3 linked regions of the Homo sapiens genome follow. The main gene of each other region encodes a partner of the protein of the gene in region 3 in a complex. Links are inferred from orthologs where the notes say so. Each region holds a gene or a part of one and is shown on either strand. Other genes may lie near its edges.

Region 1 (7,850 bases), 4.0 Mb from region 3:
CTGGAAGAGAGGCTGTGAACTGAATAAAATCAGGTGGTGAACTTGAGGGGGAAACATCCCATATTTGCATAAAGCTCTGAGGCCTGAAATTCATCTCCCTTCCCGTGGTTACTCTGCTTCCCCAACCCCAGAGAGAAGCTGCCCCAATGCCGTAATCACCTTCACCCTAGTTTGGCGTAAGGGGCATCAGGGTGGTGGGAAGGGGAGAAAACACCAAGAGGGACAGTGACCTCTCCAGGGTCACGTGCCAATGCCAGCATCCAAAGATGCCTGCTGCCAGCATTTGAGGACACCGCCCTCTGTATCATCCCAGGCGATGACGAATAAACTGTGTGAGGTGGAAGGGTCAGGGCAGCAGGCAGTTTTCCCTGAGTACAGAGAACAATGGCTCAGAAAGAAAGTAACTTAAAGAAAGATGTGTAGGAATCAACGAGCAAGCGGCTGTGGTCAGAGCAGAAGGTTTAATGAGAGGCCAAGGCCACAGGGGAAGGGGAAGAGGAGACAAGCCTCCAAGTCTTGAGGCAGAGGTGTAAGGATGATAAGGACCAGCACATCTGCTTCAGGACAGCACCTGCCCACGGGCAATTCCTTCTTTTCTTTCCACACTGAGCCGAGACAGAAAATTCTTTGCCAGACAAGATGCAAAAGAAACTGTCTCTTGCCTTTATTTTGCTCACCGTCCCACTTGTCTTCTGCATTTGAGAGCCAAGACTGACCACAGGCTGTTTCTCACACAAGAGGATACTTACTGCACTATCTGAGACATGAGGTGCAAGTGGAAGACAGGGTGGAGGCACCTCAGGGTGACAGAGCCTTATAAAAGGGTCTCCTTTTGGAATCACTCCAATTCCAGCACGCGAGTTTGAGGTACCCACCCTTTGTGGATTTGACTCAATAAAACCTTCCAGGGAGTATCATTTCTCTCAACACCCACAGTATCAAGCAGAAAAAAAAAATCAGCTCTTTTAACATGCCTAGAAATTTCTATCTGCCTTTCTCTCTCTTCAGCAAGGCAGGGGTGATTAATGTGCACAGCAGCGAGGAAGGCGGTTTTCAGGTGGTAAGAATAACAAGCAGGACGCAGAGAAGAGCTCAAGGTGAATGGGTCAGTGTGGGGGCCTGCAGGACTGACTGACAAGCAGTGGTCTGGGGGGTGCTCATGGTGACTAGGGCAGTGCCCACACCATGCAACAGAAATGGAGGCATCTCCCGGGGCAGGGTTTGTTCCCTGAGAGGACTCTTGCACCATGTCCAGCCATCCATCAACATGAGGGGACAGGAAGCCGAGCTAACTCTGCATCCTCTGGGTGTGTCATTCCTAGAGTTCTAAGGGGAGGCTGGGTTTCTGTCATCCCCTTGGCTTTGACTTCCCCAAGGGCTCACTGGGGGGCAAGATGGTGCGTCGGGGCAGCATTCAGCGTGCAACCAGGGACTGCCATAGTTTGAGCTCTTGGCGTAAGTTTTGGTAGGAGGCAGCTCCCACTGTCTTTCGAACGTAAGCAGTGAAAGATGCCCCACCAGGTTTAACACAGGCGAGTACTGTTAACTCAGAGTTCTGCCTACAGGGTTTCAAAGAACGAGTCCTCTAGTCTCAGCAGGAAAGATAAACATCCCACTCCGCAGGATGCAATGAGGAGACACCATCTGTGCTTGGTCAACATGGAATGGAGAAATCTTTATCCCTACTTCCGGCAGGAGGCATCCTTTCTATAAAACCCCAATTCCTAATGTACGAGAACATCTCAGTTGACCCTAAGCCACTTGGTACCGCTTTCAGTAAGGTTCCAACATTGGTCAGTTTCCTATATTGAAGATGACACTCTGATTTGACTCAAAAAACTAAATGCCATTAAGAACCTACACCAAAGTGCCCTCATGCCAGGAAAGCAGAACCCTGGATCCTCATCCACGATTACAGAATTTGTAACATTCTTACACTTGGAACTTCATGCACTCAACCAATTCTTACTCTGCCTTGTAAATCCCCCTACCACCAAAGCATGCATTCCCGGTTCTGAAGAAATGGAGGAGGGGGCACAAGAAGACCCTGATTTATTGCATGCAAAAGGAGCGATGGTGGAAATGACTAGAGGGCCTGGGGAGGTGTGATGATGCCGAGAGTGAAGAGGACAGGGGAAGCAAGCTGAGAGGGTGAGGCCGCGGGGAGACCGGGGCGCGCGGCACGCGGCGCTCTCACCTGTGGATGTTCATCTCCCGTGGAGGGCGGTGGGCCTTGTCGTAGGAGACCTTGGCGAAGACGCCGGCCACGATGACGAAGGCGATCACCCCGCAGGTGATGTAGACGGTGAAGTTGGTCTTGTCCTTCTCCGGGTCGTACTTGTTCTCGGGCCCCGGCGACACCACCTTGGTGCTGGGCGTCTGTACCCACACCGGGCTCTGGTAGTTGGTGCACTGGCGCTGGTCCAGCTTCTCGTGGCGCTTCTTGCAGCAGAAGCGGTAGTAGCAGGTACCGCAGCAGTACAGGTAGCCGCTCTCGCTGTTGTTACACTCGAACTCCTTGTCGTACTGGCCGCTCACGTCGTAGTAGCCCCAGCACGTCTCGTAGGTGACGGCCGCGCTGGCCGCCGCCGCCACAGCCGCCGCGGGCTGCCCCCGCCGGCTTCCCGCCTCCGGGATTCCGGGCGCCCGGGCGGTGCCGTTCAGCTCGCGGCCGCCCCGTGCCAGGGCGCCCCCGGCCCTCCGGCCCCCGACGGCAGCGCCGCCTGCACTCAGGGTCCGGTTGGCGGCGCGGCCGCGGGCTCCGTGGACGCTGGGCAGCAGGTCCAGGGACTCCAGCGAGAGCAGCAGCAGCAGCAGGAGGCGCCGCAGCGCCATGGCGGGGCCGGGCGGGAGGGCGCGGGGAGGCTTCCGCGGCAGGCCGCTCCCCCGGCGGGCCGGGCTCGGAGGACCCGCCGCGCGGGCCGGGCTGGAGGCGCTGAGCGGTCAGCGGCTCCGGGGCGATGGCGCCATCGAGGCGCGGGCGGCAGTGGCGGCGGCGGCGCGCGGTGCGCACGGACCGGCCCGGCGCGGGCTGCTCGGGCTCTCAGGCTGCGCGCCGGCTCCGCGCTCCCCCTGCGGGCTCGGCGCGCCTCCTGGGCAGCCCCATCCCCCGCCGGCGGTGACTGCGGCCCCGCGCGCGGCTCGGCTCAGGCAGGACCCGAAGCGCGGCTCCGGGCGGCGGCGGCGGCGGCGGCGGCGTGGTCCCGTCCGGGCGGGTCCTGCGGGACAAGACGGGGAGCCGGTCACGGGGTGGGGCGACTGGCGCTCCGGGAGCAGGAGGAGAACCGCGGGCAGGCGGGCGGGGAGGGTGCGCGCAGCCCTCGAGGAGAGAGACTCGGAGCCGGGAGGGGCGTAGAGCCCGCTCCCAAGACGGGGTCCCGCGGCCCTGCGCGCCTGGAACCGAGAGCGCACGGGCCGCCCCTCCAGGCGCAGCTCGGCCGCCCGGGTCCCCCAGCCGCCCGGCCCCGCAGCGCGCTCCCGCCGCAGGCTGGCTCCCTGGGACGGAGCCGGTTGAGGCTGGGGTCCGGCGGCGAGCCGGGAGAGCGCGCGGCGGCTGGACCTCACTCACTCACCATGCCCGGCTGCGACTGCAGAGGCGGCGGCGGCGGCGGCGGCGGCGGCGGCGGGGCGAGGCGGGAACGCAGCTGCCGGAGCGAGCGAGCGGAGAGCCGCCGGCTCGCCGCCTGCACTAGTGCCGGAACGTGTGCGAGAGTGAGCGAGGGAGACACACGCACTCACACACCCGCACACACGGGAGCGCCGCGAGGGGAGGGGGGACAGGGGAGGGGAGGGCAGCCGCTCTCCGCCACCCACGTTTGCACGCCCGGGCGCTCAGGGTGCGGGGCGGGGGGGACTCCTTTTCGCTTCTTCCGGATCGCAGCAGTTGAAGCTCCGCGTCACGAAAGCTCCGGACAGCAGTTATTCGACACGGCGAACCCGGCGGGCGAAGAGGGGGCCGGGAGCAGGGCGGAACGTCCGCTCTGCAGCCGGCCCGCGGCAGGGACTGACCTCCCCTGCCATTGCCTTCTCTAGCCTTCGCGACCAGTCCCCACCCTACCGGAGCCCGGGGCAGCGCGCTGCCTGAGCGGGAGTTGGGGTTTCTGCAAGCCTTTGCCTCTCCCTAGTGGTGATACTCGCAGCCAGGAGAAGAGGTCAAACCCATTGCTACAGGTTCCCAAACTGAGTCCAGGGGTCAAGTGGCTTGTCTGAGGCTGTTGGGCGACCCGTGAGCTGAGCCTACACTCTCTTCCCCTTGGTCACTCTTTCCCCAACCCCGTACCCACTACGCATAAAGGCGCTAGACAGCCCCAGGACTGGATGGCAACTCTTTGCTATACTTTTTTTTTTCCCCGCGGAGCCTCGAGGCCATTAGAAAGCTATCTGAACCTCTGAGACTCAGCTTTGTAACCCCTGTGTTGAAATCTCTGTGCTGCAGCTCCTATGGGAGGTGAGGAGGATGGGGGTGCAGGGCGGGGGTGCTTTCCGGGGTAGTTGCGTGTCTGGGTCTGTGGAAAGGAGGCCTGAGTCTAACTTTCACAGCTACGAGGCCATCCCAAAAGAGAATCATAGTACCATCCTTGGCGTGTGTCCTTGGAGGAGGTAGGGGGAACTGAGAACAAAAAGCGATGGCCAAGGCCAAGATTCTGCCTGCGTGACCAGCGTGCTTTGGTTGAAGGCAGGGAACTGAAGGCAGGGAACAGGCTGTCAGAGCGAGGGCGGTAGAGAATTTTCCCTGAGACTTTCTGTTCAGTCCCACTCATGTGTGACCTAAACAAGGGATCCCTATCCAGGAACAGAAGAGTTCCTCTTTTGGGAACCGTGGAATGGATATATTAGAGCTCGAACTCAGACTCCAAGACACAAGAGGGAGATCCTGATATTGACTAGGGGGTGGGGTGGGGGGCGGTGCACAGACTATCCCCGCAGCTCCCCACTTGCTACTGTCTCCATTCCCTCCCTCTTCCTCTGCACTTCCTCCCGTTCCCTTAACTTCTCAGTTGCCACCTTCTTCTTAAAGATTCTGTCCAACAAACATTTGTTTAGTGCCTACTCCCTGCCAGCAGAATGAATAAGAGAGTCCCTTTCCTCAAGGAGGGGGACCTTGTAGACCATTAGGGAGACAGATAAACAAATGATTTCCACATGGCAAGGTTACGTCTCATGATAAAGGCGGGCAGGGTGCTCTGAGAGCAGAAGACAGGCACCCAGCCTAGGCCTGCAAGGGGACAGATGGGGGTCAAATGTAGCTTTCTCAATGAGGTAGAGCAGAATCTTGAAGAATGGATTACGAGTTAATACAGCAAGCAAGAGGGGAAGGAGGCTCCCAGCAGAGGGAACATCCTTAGCAGAACCAGAAAGACAGGAAGTGGTTAAGGTGTGTGAGCAGGGATGCAAGCAGTTTAGCGTGAACCCTGAGGGAGTCTTCCAAATAAGGCTAGCAGGAGGGTATTGAATCCTCCCTTGCAAAGAACTTGAATTTATTCTACAATTGCTGGGGAACTGTTGGTGGGTTTTAATCAGGAGAAGACACTGTCAGTTTTACATGTTTGCTGGATCTCTGAGTCAAATGGAGTAGGGAACACTGGACTGGACGCAGGAAAAGCAATTTGGAAGCTGTCCTGATAATACAGGTAAAAAATGATGAAGGGATGCAGTAGATTACTGGGAGTTGATGCCCACAGTGGAAATAAGCATGGCTGAAAAAGCAGGTTCAGGACAGAGTTAGCAATAGTCGTGTTGTGGTTCCTTTGAGAGAACTAAGTGGAGCTGTCCTGCACAAGAATTGCAAGCTCAGAAGAGAAGATAAGACAGGCATATACATTTGGGAATCATAAGAACATATTTGAAGACAACAGCCTTATATATTTACCTTTACACTCTGTGCAATTTCTAAGCTATTCCCTTCTTTGTCTCTTCCATGAGCCTTCACCATCCCTTCATTATTCCAGAATTTGCTTTTCCATGTCTGAGAGCCCCTTAATGATGGATAGGAGAAATGTGTCCTCCTCACATCAGACTCTAATGATTTGTTCAGCGGCATTAAGTAGGGGAAACTGATTTGGTTTCTCAGACCACCACCACCTATAAATGTATCCTGAACCCCTGTGCTCATAAGTGGTGGCATCAACACTCATGGAAATAATAGCATCTCAGGGTTGTGTAAGATCTTAGGGGTTATATATCCCAACTCTTGCTGCAGTACACTGTATTTCTTATTGACATTTCCAGCCCTCCTGGTTTGCCCTTTGTAGTAGAAAAGGTTGCTTGGTTACCACCATACATTTCTCTTTTCTCCTTCTAGTTTGAGCGCCTGAATTGTTGACAGTATTAAAGTGCTCTTTCTTTGTGGATTTGACTCAATAAAAAGTACCAGAGAAGAATCATCTCTTCCAACACCTCCACCAACTTCAGACAGTCCTGAGGTTCAGGGGAGAGTGACCCAGTCCCTGGTTGTAGAAGGCAAATGAAGGCAAATGCTGATTGGGTTGAGCTAGACATAATAAATCTTTTTCCCCTTCACAGGGATTAAGAAGGGACATATGATCCAGTTCTAGCCAATACTAAGTGAGAGAAGTTTGCAGGGGGTTTCTGGGGAAATTTTCTTGCTCTTAAAAATAGTGATAATTCCTTCTTCTTCTTCTTCTTCTTCTTCTTCTTCTTCTTCTTCTTCTTCTTCTTCTTCCTCTTCTTCTTCTTTTCTCTTCTTCTTTTCTTCTTCTTTCTTCTTCTTTCTTCTTCTTTCTTCTCCTCCTTCTCCTTCTCCTCCTTCTCCTTCTCTTCTTCTCCTTCTTCTCCTTCTCCTTCTCCTTCCTTCTTTCTTCTTTCTTCTTCTTTTTTTGGTGTTATTTCTCTGGATGTTGTTACCTTGGGGTTGGGGCACCAGCTAAGAGTTGAAGTTGATCTTCTTTTCTTTTTTTTCTTGAGACAAGGTCTTACTCTGTTGCTCAGGCTGGAATGCAGTGGCGTGATCTCAGCTCACTGCAACCTCCGTCTCCCAGGTTCAGGCGATTCTCTTGCCTCAGCCTCCCTAGTAGCTGGGATTACAGACACCAGCCACCGAGCCTGGCTAAGTTTTGCATTTTTAGTAGAGACTGGGTTTCACCATATTGGCTAGGCTGGTCTTGAACTCCTGATCTCAGGTGATCCACCCGCCTTGGCCTCCCAAAGTGTTGGGATTACAGGCTTGAGCCACCGCATCCGGCCTCAATTTTATAGTTGTTAGCACTGCTTACCAAATATCTCTGCCTCCCAGGCATGTAGTAGAATTGCAATTCCTAGCCCACTTGTGAGTAGGAGGGGAAAGTGACTAGTATCAGTCAATGAGTTGTGAGCAGAAATGATGTGTGTTATTTTTGAAACAGAGCATCTAATTGCTGCTGCAAGACACTCTAGAATTTTCATTTTCTTCTGGCATGGTGATCAGCGATGTTCTATATGGGAGTGGTTTTTGTCAGTGTGAGTACTTAGGTGACTATAGTGAGGAATGCCTGATAGCTAATAAAAATAGTGTCCCACGATGGGCATGTAGCATGAGTAAATATAGATCAATAGATAGATAGATAGTACATAGAGATATAAATATAAAAAAAATAAATATTTCTATCTATAAATATCTATCTATATCTCTATCTATTAATATCTATCCATCTCTCTATGTATCTGCTTTTTAAAGCCACTGGAATTGAGGCCTATTATTGCAGCGTATCCTAGCCCACCCTGACTGATACACTGAGGGTGCCAGCTGAAAAGATGGACAGAACATCATTGGGCCACTCAAAGAGGTATGCTCAGGGCCTTCCCATCTCTGGTCTTCCAGTAACGTGAGATAATTAAGTTTCCTTTTATTGAAG
Region 2 (3,578 bases), on a different chromosome or scaffold from region 3:
AACGTAAAAAATTAGAAACTTTACAGTAGAGTAATATAGCAGATATCACCTAATACAAGTGATCAAAATTAACATCCTTGTAATGGGACAACTGACACCATGATACGGTGCACTGAAAAGAACAATGCCATTTCTGTGGTATCCCCGCCAAAAATGTATAAGCTCAGTCTAATCATCAAGAAATACCAGAAAAACCCAGATTAAGAGTTACTCTATAAAAAGTCTACGGGTTGGGAACAATAGACACTGAGGACTACTAGAGGAGGGAGGGAGGGAAGGTGCAAGGGTTGGAAAACTACCTATTGGGTACTATGCTCACTACCTGGGTGTCGGGATCAATGGTGCCCCAAACCTCAGCATCACGCAATATACCCATGTAACAAACTTGCACATATACTCCCTGAGTCTAAAATAAAAGTTGAAATTAAAAAAAAAAATACAACTGGCCCATAACCTTGGCATTTTGAAAGACTGGCTGAAGAACTGCTCCAGAATAAATGAGACTACAGACATGACAACTAAATGTAATGTTACTCCAGAGTGGATCCAGATCAGACTTTTTTTTTTTTTTGCATATTACTGAAACAATTAGCAAAATATGAAAAAGATTTGATAATAGTAAAGTATTAATGTTAATTTTCTGATTTTGGTAATTGTGCTATGGCTATGCAGGAAAACACCCTTGTTCTTTGGAAATACAAACTTAAGTAATTGGGGTAAAGAGGCACCACATCTAGTAAGGAATATTCAAATGGCTCAGAAAAAAGTACTTACTCGAAGTTGATGATAAAGGGAAACCTCTTCCTTACAGTAGAATGATGACTAATTAATACAGAAATAATAATAGAGTTAGAACAATCACAATTTTGGAAACATCCTAGTAAAAATTTATTCAGACAAGAATCGTCAAAGGATGCTAAACCTAGGAGGGGTAGATTTGATGAGGAACAGAATTGTCAACAAGGTCTCAAAGTTTCTCCTCACAAATTACCCACTAATTGCAAAAGGAAAAACAATAACGATACACTGGAGAAACTGGACATCTTACCCAAGTGATCAAAATTAGCATCACCAATAAGGGACAAATGGACATTCTGTGCATCTGGATGTATACCTGCAATACATATCACTTACAGCATTTCAACCCTCACTGCACTACCCCAATCTAACCATGAGGAAACATCAGAAAAACCCAAATAGAAGGATACTCTATCCTTTAGCTGTCCTGTATTTTTCAAATATATTACTATTATAAAAAACAAAGAAAAGCTGAGGAACTGCTCCAGATTAGAGGGTTATGGCAATACAACATATGATCCTAGGCTGGATCGTGGAGCTGAAAAAAATTACCAATAAAACAGCAAATGAAATTGAAATATGGACTGTAAAGTATTATGGCAATGTTAAATTTCTGAACTTGATAGCTGTACTTGGGTAAGACAGCATGCTTGTTCTTATGAAGTGCATGTGTAGTGTTAAAGGGTAAAGAGTATGATGTCTACAATATACTTTCTAATGGGTCGAGGATTCTAGGATACACACCCCCAGTTAAGGGAACTGGGAGTTAAAAGGTATTCGAAGGCTGCCATAAGGATGTAAAGAGTTAAGTCTCTACCCTTACACCCACTCCAGAGAAAAACAGTACTATTAGCTTCCTGTGTTTTCCACATGGATACAAAAACTTTTGCACACATATGTAATTCTTCTATCATTCTGACAGCTATATATTCTAATGGATGAATATATAAAATGTACTTAAGTGTTCTATTGGCATTTGTTTCTAGTATCTTTTATATTACAATCTGATATCTTAACAGATTCTTTCATCACTTTTACATTTATTTTGATAAAAGTTAGGTTTGGCTTTAATTCCTTGTTTTTAAACTTTTTTTCTGCATTTTTCAACTCTGGCTGTGGCATAAGGCCTTAATTCTGTCATCTTATTTGGTTATAGTGTCTGTTTGTATGTCTTCCTTTTAAAAATATTTTATGTTCATGTTTTGTTTTAGGGTTTTCCTCCTCATCTAGTAAATACTTCTATTCAATTTATGACCATCATTATTATTATTTAGAGAATATGGAGATGGTTCTGAGGTACAATACAACAAAAATCTTCATAGGAGAACCTAAGTGCGGCCACTGGATGATCCATTCATGGAAGGAGGCTACTCAAAGTATGAAGATAAAATGTGAGCTGGACAAGAACTACAAAACACGCTGAAAGAAATCAGAGATGACACAAACAAATGGAAAAACATTCCAAGCTCATGAGCTAGAAGAATCAATATCATTAAAATGGCCATACTGCCCAAAGCAATCCACAGATTCAATGCTATTCCTATCAAACTACAAACATCATTTTTCACAGAATTAGAAAAATCCTGCCGGGTCCAGTGGCTCACGCCTGTAATCCCAGCACTTTGGGAGGCTGAGGCGGGTGGATCACAACGTCAGGAGTTCAAGACCAGCCTGGCTAAGATGATGAAACCCCATCTCTACTAAAATTACATAAATTAGCTGGGCATGGTTGGCGGGCTCCTGTAATCCCAGCTATTTGGGAGGCTGAGGCAGGAGAATTGCTTGAACTCAGGAGGCAGAGGTTGCAGTGAGCTGAGATTGCACAGCTGCACTCAGAGCCTGGGAGACACAGCAAGACTCCGTCTCAAAAAAAAAAAAAAAGAAAAAATCCATTCTAAAATTCATATGGAACCAAAAAATCAATCCTAAGCAAATAAAACAAAGCTGAGGTATCACATTACCTGAGTTAAACTATACTATAAGGAAGCTACAGTAACCAAAACAGCATGGTACAGATATAAAAACAGACCCATAGACCAATGGAATGGAACAGACAGAAATAAAGCTACACACCTACAGCCATCTGACCTTTGACAAAGTTAACAAAAATAAGCAACAGAGAAAGGATTCCCTAATTCAATAAATGGTGCTGGAACAGCTGTCTAGCCATATGCAGAAGACTCAAACTGGACCCCTTTCACCATATATATAAAATTACCTCAAGATAGATTAAAGATTTAAATATAAGGGGCCGGGTGCAGTGGCTCATGCCTGTAATCCCAGCACTTTGGGAGACTGAGGTGGGTGGATCACTTGAGGCTCGGAATTCAAGACCAGCCTGGCCAACATGGTAAAACCCCATTCCTACTAAAAATAGAAAAATTAGCCAGGCGTGGTGGCATGTGCCTGTAATCCCAGTTAGGTTGGGAGGCTGAGGCATGAGAATCGCTTGAGCCTGGGAGGTGGAGGTTGTGGTGAGCCAAGATTGTACCACTGTACTCCAGCCTGGGCAACAGAAGGAGACTCTGTCTTTGGGGAAAAAAAAAAAAAAAGATTTAAATGTAAGACTTCAAGCTATAAGAGTCCTAGAAGAAAACCTACGAAATAACATCTGGACATCAGCTATGGGAAAGAACTTACGGCTAAGTCCTCAAAAGCAATTGCAACAAAAACAAAAATTGACAAGTGGAACCTAATCAAACTAAAGAGCTTCTGCACCGCAAAAGGAACTATCAATACAGTAAACAGACAACCTACAGAATGGGAGAGAATATTCACAA
Region 3 (7,116 bases):
CAGGCCCAGAGGCGGAGGTAGGGGGAGGAGGCGGGGAAGGGACAAGAGCAAATGAGGGCAGCAGGCGCTTGGAACAGAGCTCTGGACACAGAAAATGGAAATGGAGGTTGGGGGTGTGAAGGAATGAAGAGGTCCCAGGCGTGGGGGCCTCTTGGGGGATGCACACACCTCAACACACACGCATACAGCACACGCACAGGCACACAAACGGCGCACGCACGCACACACACACACAGCACACACACAGGCACGCATGCATGCACACACGCACAGGCACACACACAGCACACGCGCACAGGCACGCGCGCACACACACATTCTTGCTTTAGGCTTTACATCCACTCCCATTGGCCTGGCCTGTTTCTCCTCTGTGGGACCAAGGTGTTTCCAGCCCCACAAACGCCCCCTCCCCCAGACCCCAGGAGCCCAAGCCCCAAACCCCCGCCCCCAGTCCCAGCATCCCCCTCCCCACGGCTCTCTCTCACCCTACCGGCCCTTAGGGATTGCTGCAGCTCCGAGGCTCCGAGGGCCGCACTGGGGAGGGGGCCACCAGGGTCTCCTACCTTGAAGGGGGAGAGGTGGGCGTGGCCCACGACCCCGTGGCCAGCCTCGAGGTGGGACAAGTTCCTCTCCGCCACGTGCACCAGCTCGGGGGCGTTTACCTGGTTGGGGAGGTGGGCCGGGCTGTGCTCCAGAGGGGGCGTGTCTTCATCTTGGTAGCGGTATTTCTGGGGATGGGGACGGAGGTGTCACTGGGGCCAGCCCGGTGCCTCAGGCTCCAGGCTGGCCGCCCTGGCCGCCGCCTCTTCCCCCAGCCAGTGCAGTGCGGAAGGCCCTGGGGCCTGACCAGCTCCTCCCCCTCCCTCTCCTCTAGCCCATTGGCTCCCCTCTCTCCACTCTCCCAACAGCCCCCTCTCCCGCCAGGGCCTCAGCACCTCTCATCAATCCCCAGGTCCCAATCCCATCCCCCAACTCCTACTCCTCACATCCTGGGACACTGGCCTTCTGGTGGGCATAGCCCCTCTGGCATCTGTGTCTTCACCCCTTTCCCCACCACCTTCATCTTCGAGTCCCTCCAGCTTCTCAGAGCTCTAGCCCCGACACTCACATCTCCATTCTCTGCCTCCAGTCCCCAACTTCCTTGCTTCTCTCACCATCTCAGACTCACTCTTGTTCTAGCCTCCCCTCCCCTACCCCTCTGGCTGCTCCTACTCTGCATGGCATCCTCCCCGCGCCCCACCTCCATGGCCTCAGTCTCCCCATTGCAGCCTCTACCCCACAGGTGATTGGCTCTCCTTTACCTTGCACTCCTTAGGCAAGGACTGAAGTCACCCCTTCCACCAGAAGGTACTTGGTATCAGCCCCCGAGACAGGACAAGGCTAAGCCTGTCCAGTTCACTGCCCTTGCTGGTTTCCAAGCAGTCAACAGAGGGGCCCCGGGAGTCTGGCCCTACCCCTGCAACAGCCCACAGCCCAGCCAGCTAATCCGGTTATGCTATAAGGGCATGGGCTGGGGGAGGAAGGGGAAGAACAGAGACAGCAGGGCTCAGGACAGGGGCAAGAATGGGTGCCAGCCTCCCTGGTTGGGGAGGAGGGTAGCATGCTGAGCCTCAGAGTGAATTTCTGGTCTCCCTCTGCTCTTTTGGGGTGAAAGGCCCAACATGACCCCTGACTCCCTGCCCAGTTAATCAGCTGCCATCCCAAGGGCCTCCTGTGCTAGCTTAATAGGGACAACAGTAAAATGAGATTAACTGGGGGCCAGAGAAGGAGGAAAAGGGCAGATGGAGACAGCAGAAGAAGACAGCGTTTCTGCCTGGGTCCTTCCGTGTCCGCCTCTGCCCTCGCCTGCTCCTCTCCTCTGGAACGGGCCTCCACAGAGACTGACCCTCCAAGCTCCAGGTTCAGGAAGGGGAAGGTATCATACGCAGGGATCCCTCAGGAACTGAAGAAGACAGAATGCACCGCCCAGTACACATGGGTAAAAAGAGAAGGCACGGCAATCCCAGCACTTTGGGAGGCTGAGGCAGGCAGACAGCTTGAGCCCAGGAGCTGGAGTTGGAGACCAGCCTGGGCAACACAGTGAAACCCTGTCTACAAAAAATACAAAAATTAGCCAGGCATGGTGGTGCACACCTGTAGTCCCAACTGCTAAGGAGGCTGAGGTGGGAGGATTGCTTGAGCCCAAGAGGTGGAGGCTGCAGTGAGCCATGATCACGCCACCGCACTCCAGCCTGGGCAACAGAGTAAGACCCTGTCTCAAAAAGAGAGAGAGGCCAGGAGCAGTGGCTGATGCTTATAATGCCGAGGTGGGTACATCACCTGAGGTCAGAGACCAGCCTGGCCAACATGGTGAAATCCCATCTCTACTAAAAATACAAAAATTAGCTGGGCGTGGTGGCACATGGCTGTAATCCTAGCTACATGGGAGGCTGAGGCAGGAGAATTGCTTGAACCTGGGAAGCGGAGGTTGCAGTGAGCCGAGATCATGCCACTGCACTCTAGCCTGGCGACAGAGTGAGACTCCATCTCCAAAACAAAAAAGAGAGAGGGCGAGCAGAATTTCCCTCCCAAAAGTTTCTGAGAGGCTGAGAGTGCCCTAATACTTAGAGGGCAGCAGCTGCGAGATCAAATGGGAGGAAGCTTATCAAGGTCAATGGCCAATCCTTGAGTAGGATTCTGAAAATGTTAAAGATGATGAATCAAGGCTGAGAATATAACACAACTTTGGCTGTAGAGTAAGGGTACAGTAAGAGAATGGGAGAAGGGAAGTGGTCCTGTCAGCACGAAAACTCTCAAACCCAGAACACAGAGACAACTCAAATCAAGAAGCACCCTGATACATTTAAAGAGTCTTAAAGAAGGAAAACGGGCTCAGCAAGATTGAGTCTATTCTCTGGGCCACAGACTTGGAGAGAATCCTGAACTCCAGATTTCAATCCGATGGGCACAAAAAGTAGAGAAGGAAAATAGGAGAACACACAAAATAGCCCTCCTCCAAGGCTGAGCTGTCTTGAATAAAGGAGTTCTATGAACCAACAGAGACTGTTCATTCCACATCCTGAGAAGGTGGTCTTCTACCTGGGCAGTGCACAAGCTGAGGGGCAAGCCCCAGAATTGAGACCTGGGGGAAGGGGTGGAAGCCGCTCTCCGCTATCCACTCTTCCTTCACAAGGCCTCCAATTCCCTGCAAGGTAAATTAGGACCAAAGCTCCAAGTTTTGGAGTCTGGGGGAGGGTTTGAGTCCAGTGCCTCTCCATCTTCACTCCACCTCAGAGAGAAAATTCCTGAATCTGAGGAGGAAATGTCAGCGTGCACCCAAAGAAAATGGAAACATGAGGAGGGCCATTTCATCATTTATTCTAGGGAGGAAATGAAGGTAAACTTTTATCTCAGCGAGCCCCCAATACCTCTCCCTGCCCCACCCCCATGGAGGGAGGGTGGTGTCTGGCACTGAAGAAAAGGCTCCTCAGGATTGGGAGGCAACATGGAGAAAATGGGGAACAAGAAATGGGTGCCAGGGTTTCCAGAATGTGGCTGGAAGAGGTTAGGGACTAGGTTCAGTCTCTGGAAATTTTCGACGTACATGTAGGGGGGCGGGGAGAAACGTCGGGAGGGGTGGGGGTGGGGGCGGGGGAGAGTAATTCTGAAACTGCAGACTGGGGGGCTGGGGCGGTGGGGGATCAGCACCTCTCAGTCTTGGATTACAGGGCAACTAAAGCAGGACGGGAAAGGAGGACCCCCCCCATCCTTTATCCTACTGGGACTCAGGGCCCTAACCCAGACAACTCAGATGCTACTGGGACATATCTGCACCCCCAATATATTAGGGCTTAAAACAAGTAAAAGGCCTGGGGAATGGGGGACACGGACGGAGTCGCTGTTGTTCCTTCCCCTTTGGCCCCCTCCTCACCAGAGCCCCAGTTGCACAGAATGACCTGGAACTGAGGCTTGCACCCCCAAAACATAGGGGTGTGAGTCAAAGTGAATGATAAGAGGGGCGACCCACGGCGCCTGTCCACGAGAAGTTGCAACCCAGAGACCCCGCACCAAGCAGAAGGAAGAGCGACAGCGCTTGAAGCTTGCACCCTGATATTTGCGGGGGTCCGGGAAGGGGGAGCGGGCCGGAGCCCATACCGCGGCACGTACCACGCAGAGACACATGGAGGCGAATCTGTTCCGAGCCGACATGGAGAAGGGGAGGGGGACTGAGGGAAGGGGGTAGGTGGGATATCAAGGGTCCCGGGGGTTGGGGGAGGGGGAGGGGCAGAGGGGCGGGGGCTGCGGCGGCCGCGGCAACTGGAGGCTGCGGCGGGGGGGGGGGGGGGGTGACGGCGCCTGCGCAGTAAGGAAGAGCGTCACGTTGGGAGAGAGGGGTGAGGGGAGACCCTCTTAGCCACCAACTTCCCTGGTTCACGCTGTTTCTCTGTGAACTTCACTTTCCACAGTATACTTCTATTCCGACCCCTCTACAATTAAAGACAGACTTAAATTTACCAGTTTATCTCTCTAGTTCTCAGGGACCCCTTATTCCATCCCATCTAATCCCCCAACCCCAACATCGCGAGACCCCAAACCATTCCAAAACCTCACTGGACATCTCGTCACTACTGGCCTCCCAGAGTCCAGGGAAACAAACAGCACTTCTCTCACAAGAACCCCCAAGGGATCTACACTGCCTCTCCCACCAAACCCCCGCAAGATTGGTGCTGTGGATAGCATCTCCTCAGATTCCAAGGCATCTCCTACTCTAACCAGCATAGTTCTCCCCTGCAGTCCAGCCCCACCTGATAGGCAGCCCATGTTTCTTCAAGAGTTTAAGGAACCACAGAGCCTTGTTGGCCCCCCAAATTAATATATGCTAAATCATCCCTTTCTATATCACATCTATCTCCCAATCCACTAACAGGGATGTTGCAATTAGTGCAAATATTACTCTTGCTCTAATATAAACATCCAAATAACAAGTCCTCTAATTTGTTGGGGATCCCCTGTCCAAACCCCCGAATCTAATAAGATACTCATGACTTCCTAATATGCCAGTCTCCAAATCCACACCAGAACCCAATTTCAGGAAATATTTAATCTACTTTAAAGCAGACCCTCCAAATTAAATAGCAATCTCGTCAATTTTTTCCAAAACTCTTATAAAAAGAAATGTAGACGGGAAGATCGCTGGAGGCCAGGTGCCCAACACCAGCTTGGGCAACATAGTGAGATCCCATCTCTAAAAAAAAAAATTTTGGCCTGGCACGGTGGCTCACACCTGTAATCCCAGCACTTTGGGAGGCCGAGGCGGTTGGATCATGAGGTCAGGCGTTCCAGACCAGCCTGGCCAAGATGGTGAAACCCCATCTCTACTAAAACTACAAAAATTAGCCGGGCGCGGTGGCAGGCGCCTGTAATCCTAGCTACTAGGGAGGCTGAGGCAGGAGGATGGCTTGAATCTGGGCAGCAGAGATTGCAGTGAGCCGAGATCGTGCCACTGCACTCTAGCCTAGGCGACAGAGTGAGACTCGGTCTCAAAAATTAATAATTAATTAATTAAAAGTATTTTCCTTTTCCTTTTCTTTTCTTTCTTTCTTTCTTTTTTTTTTTTTTTTTTTTGAGACAGATTCTCGCTCTGTTGCTCATGCTGGAGTGCAATGGCGCGATCTCGGCTTACTGCAACATCCGGCTCCCGGGTTCGAGTGATTCTCCTACCTCAACCTCCCGGATATCTGGCATTACAGGCGCCCGCCACTACGCCCGGCTAATTTTTTTGTATTTTTAGTAGAGACGGGGTATCGCCATGTTGGCCAGGCTGGTCTCGAACTCGTGACCTCACATGATCCGCGCGCCTCGGGCTCCCAAAGTGCTGGGATTACAGGTGTGAGCCACCGCACCCGGCACCTCCTCTCCTTTTCTTTACCCCTGAGGTTCATAGATTACACCCTTTTCTGTCTGCCCAGAACATCCCCTCCACGATTCTGAATTCCAACTTTGTCGGAAGATTGCTCCCAAATATATCTTCTCCACACTCAGGCCTCAAAAAATACACACCAAAGATACGGCCGGCAATCTGCAATGACCCACAAATCGTCCAGAACACTCCCAACCGCCTCCTTCAGGTCTCTTCAGAGATTTCCATTTTCTCCCAAACAACTTAACCTGAAAGCCTCTCTTCCAAATATTCTCCCATTGAACGCCCACCCTTCCAGCTCTTAAAACCCAGTGAGGGGTCTCCTCAAATCGGCTGACTTCTATAAAATGCCCATACATGGTAGAAATGACGACTTCCCTAGAATCTCACCCAAGCGAGATTGACCCCGTTGATCGGCATCTGTTACATGCGCCCCCAAGATGACCCCCAATGTCCTAGTTTCATATCTGGTAGGAAGGCTTGGATCACCAGAGGATCCAAGGAGTCAGTGCGGAAGGGGCTGGACTCAAATTTCCTTCTAGAATAGAAAACCTGCAGGCCCTGCTTATCCACCAGTGGGCGCCATGGCCCATAAAGACCCTTCCCCATCCCCCATTTCCCTTTTCCCTCCATTTTCCGTTTCTCTGTTGCCTGGCAACGCAGCAATCAAGGACTTTGCCGTCGCCTAGCAACCGTCTCCTGGGAACACAGAGCTGAGGTAGGAGGGGTGCTCTGATGAAATCTGAACAGACCTCCATCTTAGGAAAATTGAGACGTCAGACTTCCCAACCCCCGGATTCTCCTTTCCAAAGACCCCCGCGCCCTGAAGTTACTTGGACAATAGCTCCTCAAACCCTGTCTCCTTTACGCACGGGGGGCCACGCCACGCCCATCCCAGGTCAGCCCCGCCCTCATTTCGGTCAGGTAACCCAGCCCCAAGGTTCCTCCCCTTTCCGAAGGTTGCTGCCTCCCTCGATAGAGTAAGCCAGACCCCACCCACCTGCCCGGGAGGCCACGCCTCCGTCCACTTCCCGCCCGTTCGCTCCCCCTGCCTCGCCCACACTGTCCCTCCGCCACGCCCCTGACGGCCAATGAATGAGGCCGTCGGCCACACTGCCCCGCCCCCGGCATCTCGGCTTTGCCCAATAAGGACCACCCGGAGGGTTTAACCGCTTCGCTCCTGGGGCTCTGGCAAATAGCCTCAGTCTTTCCCCCAC

The links.
Region 1: DLG4 (region 3) and SHISA6 share a complex: the UniProt entries of both Homo sapiens proteins name them as parts of the postsynaptic hippocampal AMPA-type glutamate receptor (AMPAR) complex.
Region 2: the proteins of DLG4 (region 3) and CRIPT are in contact, whole or in part, in a crystal structure (PDB 5HED), measured with the Rattus norvegicus proteins. The link is inferred for Homo sapiens from one-to-one orthologs. Residues at the interface, in NP_062567.1 of Rattus norvegicus: Gly322, Leu323, Gly324, Phe325, Asn326, Ile327, Val328, Gly329, Gly330, Glu331, Asp332, Glu334, Ser339, His372, Glu373, Ala376, Leu379, Lys380, Arg399, Phe400; in NP_063972.1 of Rattus norvegicus: Lys94, Asn95, Tyr96, Lys97, Gln98, Ser100, Val101.

The regions. Positions count from the first base shown.
Region 1 is NC_000017.11:11,236,408-11,244,257, reverse strand, and holds the start of SHISA6 (protein shisa-6 isoform 1 precursor), read right to left. Parts: upstream 3,046-7,850; 5' UTR 2,836-3,045; coding exon 2,198-2,835; intron 1-2,197. UniProt on the Homo sapiens protein: Involved in maintenance of high-frequency synaptic transmission at hippocampal CA3-CA1 synapses.
Region 2 is NC_000002.12:46,627,214-46,630,791, reverse strand, and holds the end of CRIPT (cysteine-rich PDZ-binding protein), read right to left. Parts: 3' UTR 616-3,578; downstream 1-615. UniProt on the Homo sapiens protein: As a component of the minor spliceosome, involved in the splicing of U12-type introns in pre-mRNAs. Involved in the cytoskeletal anchoring of DLG4 in excitatory synapses.
Region 3 is NC_000017.11:7,207,512-7,214,627, forward strand, and holds part of DLG4 (disks large homolog 4), read right to left. Parts: intron 729-7,116; coding exon 663-728; intron 1-662. UniProt on the Homo sapiens protein: Postsynaptic scaffolding protein that plays a critical role in synaptogenesis and synaptic plasticity by providing a platform for the postsynaptic clustering of crucial synaptic proteins.